Regions from separate parts of the Homo sapiens genome. Here region 2 is linked to region 1. Evidence: fine-mapped expression QTL. Tissue or cell type: whole blood. Region 1 holds a variant in brackets; the other region holds the start of a gene. All regions are shown on one strand. Distances are between the middles of the regions.

What was found. PIP is the estimated chance that this variant, and not a neighbour inherited with it, causes the effect.
Region 2: it holds the start of SOAT2, and the variant in region 1 is fine-mapped to the expression of SOAT2 in whole blood (TOPMed, PIP 0.95).

The regions. Positions count from the first base shown.
Region 1 is chr12:53,443,065-53,445,823 of GRCh38, reverse strand. PRR13 (proline rich 13) reads right to left here. Exons shown (of 4, transcript NM_018457.4): 3 at 2,051-2,433. Among named protein-coding and RNA genes, the nearest start is that of PRR13, 2.7 kb to the right of the region's middle. The variant T/C (reference allele first, on the strand shown) is at 1,283.
Region 2 is chr12:53,101,936-53,104,435 of GRCh38, reverse strand. It overlaps SOAT2 (sterol O-acyltransferase 2), which reads right to left and starts at 950. Exons shown (of 15, transcript NM_003578.4): 1 at 777-950; 2 at 230-285. The coding sequence starts at 858. IGFBP6 (insulin like growth factor binding protein 6) reads right to left here. Exons shown (of 4, transcript NM_002178.3): 4 at 2,096-2,391. The coding sequence ends at 2,269. RefSeq lists an enhancer at 840-1,368.

The DNA of each region.
Region 1 (2,759 bases):
AATGGATTAAACCATCCTAAATTATCACACGGAATTTAAAAAATTTAACATATTGCCTTTGGAGCAAATTTCCAACTTTCTTTACCTGAATCGATGCCTAGGCAAGGAATAAATTACAGGCACAAGCATAGTATAGTGCTAGGAAACAGCTGTTACCTTTTCAATGCTTATTCATTAGCTGCGTGCAAAGTCCTATGATTTTAAGAAATTGGATTCTACAAATCTAAGAAAAGACAGTAGAAACAGCAGTTGTATGTGCATGTATCTCTACTTTTTCCCAAGCACAATGGGAAAAAGTGGGGAAGGTGTAAGAAAAGGCTGGGAGTTCTATTCAAGGTTCCTTAAGCATATACTCCCAGCAATGCTAGTTATTAAATAAAAACATTTTTCAGTCTCTCCAGGGTAATTTCTCCCGCTTTTCCCCACTAAATCTCAATTCTCTTCGGTTCTCTTCAGACCTTTTTTTTTTTTTTTTTTAGACGGAGTTTCACCCAGTTGCCCAGGCTGGAGTGCAATGGCATGATCTTAGCTCACTGCAACCTCCACTTCCTGGGTTTAAGAGATTCTCCTGCCTTAGCCTCCAGAGTAGCTGGGATTACAGACACGCACCACCATGCCCAGCTAATTTTTTGTATCTTTAGTAGACAGGTTTCACCATGTTGGCTAGGCTGGTCTTGAACTCCTGACCTCGTGATCCGCCCGCCCCGGAATCCCAAAGTGCTGGGATTACAGGTGTGGACCACGGCGCACAGCCTTCTCTTCAGATTTCTATCAAAGACCCAGAATCAGGAATTAGAATCCACAAGGCAAATAAATACTGGGCAGTTAAATGTAAATGGAGGCCTCATCAAGATGCAGATTGGTTTAATCCTTCCAGAGTTGTCCTCAGAGTTGCTTTTATCCTTGCTATTTTTTGTTTGTTTGTTTGAGATGGAGTCTTATCTGTCACCGAGGCTGGAGTGCAGTGGTGAGATCTGGGCTCACTGCCATCTCTGCCTCCCGGGTTCAAGCAATTCTCCTGCCTCAGCCTCCTGAGTAGCTGGGATTACAGGCATGCGCCACCACACCCAGCTAATAATTCCCAAGTGCTAGGATTACAGGCATGAGCCATGGCACCTGGCCACCCTTACCAATTTTTAACACTCCTCTAAAACAAAGATACTTAGCCTTGGAGCTGAGTATAAAACCTCCTTAGGGCTGGGTGCAGTGGCTCACGCCTGTAATCCCAGCACTTTGGGAGGCCAAGGCGGGCGGATCACAAGGTCAGGAGATCGAGACCATC[T/C]TGGCTAACACGGTGAAACCCCATCTCTACTAAAAATACAAAGAATTAGCCGGGCGCGGTGGCGGGCGCCTGTAGTCCCAGCTACTCGGGAGGCTGAGGCAGGAGAATGGCGTGAACCTGGGAGGCGGAGCTTGCAGTGAGCCGAGATTGTGCCACTGCAATCTGGCCTGGGCTAAAGAGCGGGACTCCGTCTCAAAAAAAAAAAAAAAAAACCTCCTTAGTCCTAGGCTTTGTTAGAAGCCTAGTCACTGACTGCTCTTGTCCTCACTTTTTCTGCTGGATGATAGGGCAAAGGACCCATGTAATTAACACAACGCCCTAAGAACACTGATGAAAGAGAGAAGGAACTTCTGGAACTAGGGACAGATTAATTCTGTTAATTATTATAAGACCTTGCTTTGTCAAAGGAATGACTTTGGTATTTTGACAATGTCAGTGGGCGTGTCCAACTTGCTAGAATATGCACCTGGCGGGAGGGGAGCAAAAGTTCTGGGAGAGTAGGGCAGAAAAGATTTGGCTTTTGATTCTAAAATCCATTCTAAGGCTCACCCTAACTCCCCCCAGATAGGAGAAGCCTGATGTTTATTTTCAAGATAATCAGATTCTTCCCAGTAGCAATCTTTTATAAAAAGGAAGAATCATCTACCAGAGCGACACAATTGTCATCCCTCACGTCCACAGAATGTGAATCCCCCTCACCCAACCCCTGCCTACCTAGTCCCTCTGAGGGGGGACTCCTTCCCTAGCCAGTCTCCAGAGGGTACTGACCTTGCCATGCTTGTGGTACTTGTGGTGCTTTTGGTGCTTGTGCATCTTTTTATGAGCTTTCTTCATTTTCTTCTGCATCTTCTTGTCTACTATCACTGCTGGTCCAACCATGCCAGGAGCCAAGGGATTCACAGGAGGGATTCCAGGGGCAGGCGGTGGGTATGGAGGAGGGTAGGGACCCAACGGTTGGCATCCTGGATACCCTGGCTGTGGCACAGGATGAGGGGGCCCACCTGGGGGGAAAGCTGGATTGCCATGGGGAGCTCCTGGGGGAGGAGGACAGGGGCCTGGGGGAAAGGGTGGATTAATAGGTGGTGGGTGGGCAGGATTGGAACCTCCAGGGCACCCAATATTGGGGGGATATGGATTTGGCCCTGGCTGCCCTGGTGGAAGAAGCAGAGAATAAACATTAGAATTCCCCAGAGTCTCCAACAACAAACAACAAAAAGAAAGAGATTCTTTCTCACTCAATACTTAAAGGGAAACGGAAAGATGACAAAGAAGAATGGAGGGTAGGGGAGACAAACTTGAGTTGGGGAGAAAAGGGGGAATGTCCCTGGAAGGGCTAGGGAGAGGAGGGAGACAGTGAACTCTGAGGAAGACAAAAGCACTGGTCAGTCCAGGCGCGGTGGCTCACGCCTGTAATCCCAGCACTTTGGGAGGCCGAGGTGGACAGATCTCATGAGGCCATGAGTTTGAGACCAGCCTG
Region 2 (2,500 bases), 340 kb after region 1:
TTAGCCACACCTGGTGGCACTCATCTGTAGTTCAGCTACTCGCTTGAACCTGGGAGGCAGAGGTTGCAGTGAGCCGAGATTGTGCCAATGCACTCCAGCCTGAGCAACAGAGCGAGACTTTGTTTCAAAAAAAAAAAAAAAAAAAAGTCATCTTTATCACCAAGCCTCACTCCTGCTTCCTGCTACCAAGGATCTGTCCACTTGACCTCTGACCTCTGACATCCCTCACCTCCATGTGTCGGGTCCATTGTACCAAGTCCGGGGCTCTGTGCGTCTCAGTGTTTCCTGTGAGGAGGGATCAAAGGCACAGTCAACAGGAGGAATTGGGGTTCTGCAGACCCAGAGGCATCCTGTGGTCAGGAAATGCTTTGTGTGCTCAGCAGCTGCCCTCACCCCAACCAGCCAATATCTAGTATCATGGTTGGGGCTACTAGAAGGGGAAGTTGCTGTTGCCAGTGGTGAGGAGGCCATAGGCAAGCAGGGGGCCTGGTGACATTACTGGGAACAGGGCACTCAGGGAATGGGAAGCTACTCCATTCACTATCTGGGGCTAAACAGTCAGAAGGATAAGGCCAGGCCACAGCTCTGACATAGCTCTTTTCTGTTCCATCTTCCAGCTGGGTGGCTCTGGGCTGAGGCCAGGGTCTACCTTCCTTGGCCTCTCTGGACAGCAGGAAGGATTGGCATCAGGCAGTTGGAGCCTTCTCTCCATAGCGCATCTCTCCCCGCCTCCCCCCCACTTGCCTGTGCCTTCTGCACCCCCGAGGGCGGCTCACCATCTCCACAGGGTTGGCGCTCCCGCTCCCCTCCCAGCCCTTCTGTCCTCTGCAGACGCAGACGGGCCCCGCCTGGCTCCATGGTGCGGTCTCCAGCGGGCAGCAGGCAGCCCTTGCCCGTGTTGCCTCCTTCCTTCGCAGTGTGGCCTGCCCTGTAGAGCTCTTGTCCCACTCAGCTCAGGTGACAGCTCCAAAGACTAAAGTCCTTTCAGGAGGAGGGGGCCTCTGGGAGTGCGATAGGTTATCTGATCTGGAGGCAGAGCTTCTCAGATTCAGACCTCACTCTGCTGTCTGTCGCAGGGATCGCCACATCCCCCTAACACCCCAACCACCATCCAGATGCCCAGCTCCAAGGGTGCTATCCACCCCGCCACACACACACAGGAATAGTGGCTGGGTACATCTTGGGGAGGGGAACTTTGCCTCTCAGAAGCTTGTCACCTAGCATGGCTGGCCTTCCAGTCTCTCTCCCAGCAGGCTGAAGGTCAGGGAGGAGTCAGAAATGTCTTCATGTATCAGTGCGTTCAGCTCGCTTTCACCACAAGGTGTGTGATTGACACATGTGGTAATATTCTGATGGGGTTGGCACTGTGCTACTCACGGAACTGGGGCCCCTCCAGGAAAGGCTGAGTGTCAGGGCCCCTGAACTGACAGGGCCGCTTCCTGACACCTGCTTGGGTGAGCATGTAGGCAGAAAGGAGACTAAACAAACACGTATTCAGCACCTAGGGAATACCAGGTATTGTCACATATGGAAGAACCGGATGCAAACCTCCCTCTGTCATTTACCAGCTATATAATTTCAGGCAAGTGACCCCAAATTTTAAGCCAGTTTCCTCCTCTGAAAAATAGGGGTAAAAATCCCTATATCACAAGGTTATCGTAAGCTCAAAATGAGGTTGTCCAGGTAAAATCACATGGTTCAGGGCCATGGGATGAGCTCATATATTAGTAATAATTTCCTTCTTTTTTTAGTAGGAAGTAACAGAAGGGTATGTGCTTTGAGAGTTCCTCTTTGCTGGGTTCCTGCTGGGATTAACTATTAATCCTTCCCCTCCCTTTGTGTCCAAAGATCAGTGTTAGAAACAAGGTCACAACTTCAGATTAAGGCCATGATCTCAGTGTCTCCCCTTCCCACTCCCAACTCCTGGTGGGCAGCTCTGTGAGGCTTGATGGCTTGAAGCTTCTGCCTGGCTGTCACAGGAAGGACTAAAGGTATCCACAGGAAAGGAGAAATGCTGTGAGTGAGCTGTAGTGGGGTAAAGAGAGGGCCAGGGATTCCAGAATTGTGAGAGGCAGACACAGAGACACAAGCCAGCGACCCCAAGCACAGCTTTATTGACACCCCAGCCAACACCAACACTCTTTCCAACCAGCGGTGAGGGGCCCATGGGGCGGGGCCTGAAGGTGGATTGAGGGCCTCGGTTTTTTGTTGAGTGATGACAGCTCCATGTTCCTTCCAGTGGCCCTGCAGCCCCTCTATCCCCCAGCTTTAGCCGCTACTCCCAGTGGGGCAGGAGGAGCTTCCATTGCCATCTGGAGACCCTGGCAGGGACTTGCCCATCCGATCCACACACCAGCAGGGACCTCGGCGCTGCCCCTGGGAGGAGCGGCACTGGAGAGAGAGGCACACAGGTCAGGAGTGAGGCCAGAGGCTTCCAGCAGGAGAATGAGAGGGGACATCTGAGTCTGAGGATGTAAAAACACCTGAGCGTCTCCTCGGG